Linked DNA regions of Homo sapiens: region 2 is linked to region 1. The links come from fine-mapping of genetic effects on gene expression. A gene starts in region 1. The other region holds a variant in brackets. All regions are shown on one strand. Distances are between the middles of the regions. Region 1 holds the start of KLK1 (kallikrein 1). Region 2 holds the start of SNORD88C (small nucleolar RNA, C/D box 88C).

Region 1 (4,510 bases):
GCATTGTGTCCTGGGGTGACGTCCCTTGTGACAACACCACCAAGCCTGGTGTCTATACCAAAGTCTGCCACTACTTGGAGTGGATCAGGGAAACCATGAAGAGGAACTGACTATTCTAGCCTATCTCCTGTGCCCCTGACTGAGCAGAAGCCCCCACAGCTGGCCAGCAGCCCCGCCTGACATGGAACAGAACGGAGCCATCCCCCAAGACCCTGTCCAAGGCCCAGATGTTAGCCAAGGACTTGTCCCACCTGAGGACAAAGCTGGCGCTCAAGGTCACCTGTTTAATGCCAAGATAACAAAGCGCTGATCCAAGTTGCTCTGTAGGAATTTCTGTGACTTTTTTCTGGGGTCAAAGAGAAACCCCGAGACACTGTACACTGTTCCTTTTCACCCACCACCCCGATCCCTAGGTGAGGAGAAGCGGCTTGAAGCAGGGCTCCATTCATTCAACACACATGACCACCCGTGTGATCTTGAACAAGAGGCCCAATCTCACTTCGCCTTGGTTTCCTTATCTGTAAAATGAGACCATCTTATTGCTGACTTCAAAGGGCTGTTGTGAGGATTAAATGAGATGATTCGTCTGAACTGATTAAAATCGTGTCTGGCACTGAGTAAATACCCTCTATCTCTGGATCCCAGTTAAAGGACCTAACAGACACTAGATTACCAAGAATGGCTTTTTCTTTAAGGTTTAGTTCTGGGCCGGGCATGGTGGCTCACACCTGTAATCCCAGCACTTTGGGAGGCCAAGGCGGGCGGCTCACTTGAGGTCAGGAGTGCAAGACCAGCCTGGCCAACATGGTGAAACCCCATCTCTACTAAAAATACTAAAAAAATTTAGCCGGGCGTGGTGGCACACGACTGTAATCCTAGCTACTTGGGAGGGTGATGTGGGAGGATCGCTTGAACTTAGGAGGCAGGAGTTGCAGTGAGCCGAGATCGCGCCACTGCACTCCAGCCTGGTGACAGAGCAAGACTCCATCTCAGAAAAAAAAAAAAAAAAAAAAAGATTTAGTTCTGGGCTTCCTGGTAGCCATGGCAAAAAGGCAAATACTGTCCTTTCCTTAGCCAGGTCCCTGATATACAGCAGAGGCTGGAACTCTGAGCTGCTTTGATTTTACCAAAAAGCCAAGACAACCTGTTGGAAGCCTATGGGTTTACCATTGAGGCTGCAGGAATCTAGTTCCTAATTATCTTCAGAGACCACAAAATGTGATGTTCAAGGTCGCTGAATGTTGAAGTACATGAACCTGGCTCGTGAGACCTAAATATTGTACTGGTGGTGGGGGGGAAGGGTCATTGGAATCTGTGGTTAGCCTGATCTTGACCTGGGAGGGAAGGTTGTCCAGATCTCTGGGACTTTGGAGGACAGGACGTTGAGCACCCATAACTGGGAGCAAGAAGTGGGAGGCTCATTGAGACCCCAGCATTGTTTGGGAGGGACACTGGATTTTGTAATGCTAAAGAACTTACCCTGGGAGACCCCTGAAACTTCACATTCCTGGATCTGGAGGCACTAGGAATGTGGTGATGTGTACCCCAAAATTTTATTATGAAAGGAACAGTAGCTTTGGGGACCTAGGTCCTGGGTCTGGGAGTGCAAGAACCAGGGCATTCTGAAGGCCAAGGCTTATATTTCAGGGGGAACTGGCAGCTGAGATGCTAGTATCTTGGCTCCGAGTGGTGCAGGGAATCAGAGCCCTAACTGCTGGTGTTTGAGGGCACCAGGTCTGGGGGTGCAGGGCCTTAATTGAGACTGAGGTATATGGGGCTTTGTACCAGGGGTCACTGATTCCTCCGTCTTCCTGTTTCTGCTTCCCCTCAGTCCCCCCTTGCCTCACTGGCTGCTCCCCAGAGCAAAGCCCCAGAGCCACAGGCCCTGCCCCACCTGGCTTCAACCCCAGGAATGCGTCCAGCGTGATCCAGGGCCTGCAGAACAGGTGCTGGTTCTCCCTCCCCGTCTACAGCTCTGGGGATCGGAGGGGGGGGGGGCAATTGTCCAGCCCCCAGGCAACAGGGGAAGGGCCTTGGCCAACATCTGGGTGCCAGCAGGGCAGGGGTGGGGCTCTGAGGGGATAAGGGCTTTTAAAAGCCTCCCCAGGGAGGTTCCCCAGTTCCTCCACCTGCTGGCCCCTGGACACCTCTGTCACCATGTGGTTCCTGGTTCTGTGCCTCGCCCTGTCCCTGGGGGGGACTGGTGAGACAGTGGGGGGATGTGGGAGGGGGAACGGGCCCTGATTCTCTTGCTGGCCTCACATCCCCCCCCGATAAGACCTTCCCCTCCAACACCCCACCCTCATCCCTCTGGCCCACAGTCTATCCTAGTCCGGGGTGCCCCGGCTCTTATCTATCTTGCGCGGCCCCACCCTAAACTTCCACCCCCGCTCCTCCATGTTGTCATAGTGCTCACTCCCACACCAGATTCCTGCTCCTCCCAGGAAGCCTCAGTACTTTCTCCTCTTCCCTAGCCAACGCCCTGTCCCACCGCTTTACCAAAGGGGCAGATTCTGGGCCATCTCTGTCTCTCTCTGGAGGACCCCAACCCTCCCATGGGCTTCCCCCACCCCACAGGACTCTGATCATCCCCTCCTGCCCCCTAGTTCCCTGCGGCCACCTATTTGGCTCCTGAGTCTACAAATCCCACCACACTCCAGTGACTTTTTCCATCCAGCTGTCCGCTCTCAACTGTGTCCTCCAGACCCTGACATCTGGTCTCCCCAGTCCTTCCAGGGTCCCCCAAATTTCACCAGAAAACCCTGCTTCCCAAACTGGCATGTGGGATCCCCCATCTGGTATGGGGGGGGGTCTGCAAATGTCCCTTCCCACCCAGCACCCCCAGCTCTCCCAGGAAAAACACCACACCCTCCCACCACATGCTCCTTTCCTTGGGGAAGTTCCATCCCGCCCCAGGCCCCAGCCCTTCTCTGCCTGAATTGTTCCTACACAGCTCTGGTTTTCTGGAACCCCACCCCAAGGATCCTGAATGCCTTCTCAGCCAGCGCTTCTGCCCTGGCCTCCCCCAAGTCAGTATGTGATTCTACAACCTCACGTCAAGTGGGTCCTGCATTGCATTCCCACAGCTGCTTGGCGCCTGTTCTCACCACTTCTCCAATCCTCTTCCTAGGATTGCCTCCAAGAGGACCCCATATCCTTCCAGTACCCTCAGACCATGAACCCCATCCCCATGAGAAACGAAGATCCCATCCTTCACCCTGTCCGAGAAGGACTGCCACTCACGCCTCCCTCCTCCTGAGCCCCGTCCCAGTCCTGACCGCAACTGTGTTCTCAGGGCCCCAACCTCCCCTCAGATTGCCATTCCTGGTTCACAGGAAGGACCCCAAAACCTCTCGGAAGCCCACCTCTAGCCTTAACCATAGCCCTTTCTTTTACCCTTTAACCAGGAAGCCCTGAAATCTAACTGTCCCAGCCAAGCTGGCCCCTTCCAACCCCAATGTAGGGACCCCAAGTCACCCCCAAACTCTTCAGTCCAGATGCTCTTCTTTACCTCTCAGACCTGGTTCCCTAAAGCTGCATCCTTTCCTGAACCTCAAAAGCCCAACCCAGGTCCTGTTTCCCTAGCCTAGGAGCCCCTTAGCCCTCCAGATTCTTCCTCAGTGAGCCTCTGATCCTGTCCCACCCTTGGCGCCTTGATCCCTGGTTTCCAGAATCCCTTTCCACTCCCCTAACCCACCACCTCCCATCCCCCAGCCCCAGACCCCAAATGACCTGACGCCCAGATGCAGTGTCTGCTCCAGACACTGTCTCCTGTCTCCTACCCTGATCCCTGGAGGCTGCTCTACTGTCAGAGCACAAAATCTCCCCACCAGGTCCAGCCACCACTCCAAAAGCCCAGGGAACAGTCCAGAGTCCCACCCCTTCCCAACACCCCTTGCCCATGTCCCCAACCTCCAGCCCTGGTCCTCTACCCGCAATGTCCCTTCAGACCCACAGCCCAGCTCCCTCTCCTAGCCTTGTCCCTGGCCTCTCCTGCCAACCCTGCCCTTCCTGACCCAGCACCGCCTCTGCAGGTGCTGCGCCCCCGATTCAGTCCCGGATTGTGGGAGGCTGGGAGTGTGAGCAGCATTCCCAGCCCTGGCAGGCGGCTCTGTACCATTTCAGCACTTTCCAGTGTGGGGGCATCCTGGTGCACCGCCAGTGGGTGCTCACAGCTGCTCATTGCATCAGCGAGTGAGTAGGGGCCTGGGGTCTGGGAGGAGGGCATCTATGCTGCCACAGGATTGACAGGCCAGTGGCATTCCCCTTGGATAACCTCAGGCAAGACTGGGGGGCTGAGGCAGAGAGGAAGGCTCTGGCGCAGGTCGCCTGGCAGGGCAGAGCTGGGCTGGACACCCCTCTCCAAGGCTGCCTGGGTCTCTTGGGATCTGGTTCTGCTTGTGTCTCTGTGTGACTGTGTTCTGGTCTCTGTCTTCCTCTCTCTCCTCTGTCTCCTTGTCTCTGCATCTCCCCTGTCTCTGTCTGTCTCTGAGTCTCTCTGCGGCATCTC
Region 2 (4,218 bases), 20 kb after region 1:
TACTCCAGACCACAAGGTTCATGAAAGGAATCTCCTCACTAGAAAGAAGAAAACAACCCAAATGACCAGGGACCCGCTAAACAAAGCGTGTTCAATTCACACAAAGGAGCCCGTTGCCATTGTTCAGTGAATGAGATAATTCTGTACGTACTCATGTGGGGAAACAACTTATGGGACAGATTAGAGTGGAAAAAAGTATCTTTATCCATAATATGTGTGTGTGTGTGTGTGTGTGTGTGTGTGTATATATATATAAAGTCCATACCAGGCCAGGCGTGGTGGCTCACACCTGTAATCCCAGTGCTTTGGGAGGTTTGAGGCAGGCAGATCACTTGAGGTCAGGAGTTCGAGACCAGCCTGGCCAATATGGTGAAACCCTGTCTCTACTAAACATGCAAAAAAATTAGCTGGGCGTGGTGATAGGCACCTGTAATCCCAGCTACTCGGGAGGCTGAGGCACGAGAATTGCTTGAACTCGGGAAGCGGAGGATGAAGTGAGCTGAGATCACACCACTGGACTCCAGCCTGGGCGACAGAGCAAGACTCCATCTGAAAAAAGAAAACATAAAGTCCACACCAAATTGTTGACAGTGAAACTCCTAGAAAGTGAGTTTGGAGTAGAGAAGTTTCATTTTTTAATTTTCAAAATAATCATATAAGTGGAAAGAATGTATAATCCTATCAGTGGAAAGACACTCCTGAGATCTCCAACCCTACCAAGAATCCAGGCCCCCAGGCCTTAGACCGTCAAAACTGAGTGGGAGCCCCAAAGGCCTCCCTCGGCCCCAGGAGTCCCAGCTCCCAACCCCCTTTTCTCCCAAACACGGGAATCACGACCCCAGCCCCTCCTCCCTCAGACCCAGGGGTCCAGGCCCCCATCTCCCGCTTCTCCAGACACAGGGTCCCTCCTTCCGGCCCTTGCGTCACCGTGTAGGCTCCGCCTCTAATTCTGCGCCACGTGGGCGCTTTCCCAGGACGGCCCCCTGTCAATCTCCACACTGGCCCCGCCTCCAGCCCAGTGGCTGGGACTTAATTTGGGTCCGGCCCTTCGGCTTGGGCCCCGCCTCTGCAGCCTCACTCAGCTCAAGCCCCTGCCGCGCAAATAGTCCCAGCGGATTCTCTCTCGTGTCGGGCCGCCCTCGGGGTCCTTTCTCTTCACGGCCCATCTTTGATGCTGTCTTCAGAATTGCCGGACGCAGGGGACAAGACAATCGTTTCCATCATATCCTTGCCCCTTTTTGTCAGCCCCAGAGACAGCGTCTCCTCGCTTGTTCAGGAAGATTCTAGCGGAAGCAGGCAGTATTCCTTTCCCTAAGCATGAAATGGGGTTTCCCAAACAGGCGTGTGTATTGGACGCCTCGGGCGGAGCGCGGGCTGGCGCCGAGGACCGGCCTTGCGAGCGGCGCGCACTATAAAATGGCGCGTGCTGCAACCCGCGCCCGCTTCGGAGAGAGAAATGCTGGGGTGAGGTTCTTAAGTTTATTACTTTTTCCGGCTGTGTGGAAAGACGCACGTGTCCTGAAGGGTTCGAGGCTGCGACGGGAGCGGCCATGTAGTCGCGTGGAAAGGGTCAGGGCGTTTGCAAGGACCCAGAGAGCGCCCTCCGGGGCGAGCCTGGGAGTTTTCTGCGGGGATGGTGGTGGCTGTTTGGGCCGCCTGGGAGTTTGCGACTCCTATAGCTGGCGCGAGCGGGGATGCTGGGGCGGACCCCCCTCCGTCTGCCCCGCGGCGGAGCTCGCCCCTTGTGCTGCCCGCACGCCGCGGGCCTCCGCCATCTTGTCGATTTGGTTGGGGGAGAGGGGTGGGCGGGCTGGGAGGCGACATTGAGTTCTTTCCGAGTGTTTCCATTTTCGTGCTACCTACAGGTGCTTCCTTAGGAATTCTCTCTTGCTTTTAAAATTCTGGATGGCTGGCATTTTTGTGCAACCTAGAACAAAGACTGGGGGACGGGAGAGGGTTTTGGGGGGTTCCATGGGGGCACAGATAGGGTATCGAGTTACCAAAGAAGTGAGAGTGAAGTTTCTAGGTGAATTGCCGGGTTTGAGAGTCGTGTAGGAATGGATATAGAAGGAAGCAAACGAGGCCTTTGCTTACCTGCGGGAGTCGTTCTGACCGTTCATGCCACGTGAGAGGGTTTTGTTAACGTTAGTTTTTGGCTTAGGTCCTTTAAGGTCTTGAACATCGGTTTCCTGACTTGAGCGGGGCCCATGCCCCTGCCGAGGAGGCTCAGCCTGGAAGCAGCTAGCCCATTTCCTATCTCCCCCACCACGACCCCAGCAAGGATCTCTACTTGACTTACCTCCTTCAGGCAACCACCTAGAAAATCGTTGAGTTTGTTCATGTC[A/G]CAAGTGAAAGTATTTTTTCATGCATTCATCGTTGGCACGTCGTCCTTTGGCAATATTAAAATCTACCAACAAATGGGAAAAGTTAACATTTGCACCATCTTGCCATATTCAAAAACCTTGTGCTTAAGTGTTTTGAAAGTAAGTTTCATGGCCGAACGCGGTGGCTCATGCCTGTTATCCCAGCACTTTGGGAGGCCGAGGTGGGTGGGTCGCTTGACCCTAGGAGTTCAAGACCAGCCTGAGCAACATGGCAAAACCCCATTTCTACAAAAAAATAGTAAAGTGAGCCAAGCGTGGTGGTGCGGGCCTGTAGTCCCAGCTACTTATGAAGGAAGTGGGAGAATGCCTTTAGCCAAGATCGCGCCACTGCACTCCAGCCTGGGCAACAGAGCAGACTCTTACTTGAAAGAAAGGTTCATATTTCACTCAAAATAGTGTACTTGTGTACCTACAGTAACATTTTTCTACTTAATGTTATTAGCATTGTCACCCTTAATACTGCAATTTAACAATCTGCTTTGTGCCTGTTGTTCCTCAGTCATCTTCGAAATGTCTTTTACAGCTGATATGTTCAAACCTGACTCAGTCGAGGGTCTCTCCTCATTATTATTTACAAGTTGGCTTTGTTTCTTCTTCCTTCTCTCAATAAGTTCTTCCAGGGGATTTGTGTCTTGGCAGCTTTCTCTGTTTATGGGTTATGTGCAGATGTAGGCAGTGCTAAAGAAACCTGCAAACAGTGGGGGATGAACACCGGGGACATCTTCATGTAGTGCATTTGGGGTCCTACCCATCCCATGAGGACAGTCCCCCGAGGACCTGTGACACTGGGGAGGTTGGGGCATCTTGGTGTCTCCATGAGCAAAACTGGTCATTCCTACCTTCTGGATGAGTTTTGCATTTCCTACTCTTTTTGAGACAAGTCTTGCTCTGTCGCCCAGGTTGGAGTGCAGTGGCACGACTTGGCTCACTGCAACCTCCGCCTCCTGGGTTCAAGCAATTCTCCTGCCTCAGCCTCCCGAGTAGCTGAGATTACAGGCATTCTCCACCACGCCTGGCTAATTTTGTATTTTCAATAGAGACAGGGTTTCACCATATTGGCCAGGCTGGTCTCGAACTCCTGACTTCGTGATCTGCCCACCTCGGCTTCCCAAAGTGCTGAGGTTGCAGGCGTGAGCCACCGTGCCCGGCCGCGTTTCCTACTCTTTAAGCTCTGTTAGCTTGGCCTCTGTCCCTGAAGGTAAGTGGCCTCAGGACCTGGTTGCAGAGGGGCTGGGGCTCCCATGATGTCCAGCACTGGGCTCTGATCACCCCTGAGGACACAGTGCACCCCAGGACCTTTGACACCTGGGGGTCTGAGGGGCCCCAGTTTTAATGGCTTGTGGACTTGCAGACTGTTTCCTCCCCCACTCTCACTGTGTCTTTCTGTGTTACAGGTGCAGCTTCAAGCTTAGGACCACCCACCATGCCTATCCAGGTAAGAACCCTTGCTCCTGCTCCTTCACTCACCTGGGTTTAAAATATCTCACTGTCTAGGTTGACTTCATACCGTACCTCTAGAAACTGATTGATGTGCCAATGATTGTACTCAGTGTTTACATACAAAAACCATCTCAGGCTGGGCGCAGTGGCTTACACCTGTAATTCCAGCACTTTGGGAGGCTGAGGTAGGTGGATTACCTGAGGTCAGGAGTTCGAGACCAGCCCAGCCAACATGGTGAAACCCCGTCTCTACTAAAAATACAAAAAATTAGGCCGGGCACAGTGGCTCACGCCTGTAATCCCAGCACTTTGGGAAGCCGAGGCAGGTGGATCATGAGGTCAGGGGTTCAAGACCAGCCTGACCAACATGGTGAAAACCCCCATCTCTACTAAA

The links. PIP is the estimated chance that this variant, and not a neighbour inherited with it, causes the effect. A credible set is the group of variants that fine-mapping cannot tell apart.
Region 2: its variant is the best candidate, but not a certain one, in a credible set for the expression of KLK1 in sun-exposed skin (GTEx, PIP 0.87).

Annotation. Positions count from the first base shown.
Region 1 is chr19:50,821,396-50,825,905 of GRCh38, reverse strand. KLK1 (kallikrein 1) reads left to right here and starts at 2,119. Exons shown (of 5, transcript NM_002257.4): 1 at 2,119-2,203; 2 at 4,035-4,194. The coding sequence starts at 2,158. It overlaps KLK15 (kallikrein related peptidase 15), which reads left to right. Exons shown (of 6, transcript NM_017509.4): 6 at 1-617. The coding sequence ends at 110.
Region 2 is chr19:50,801,818-50,806,035 of GRCh38, reverse strand. SNORD88C (small nucleolar RNA, C/D box 88C) reads left to right here and starts at 3,615; the gene lies at 3,615-3,711. It also overlaps the pseudogene C19orf48P and the pseudogene TMEM277P. RefSeq lists a silencer at 813-862 and enhancers at 1,113-1,362, 3,515-4,015. The variant A/G (reference allele first, on the strand shown) is at 2,345.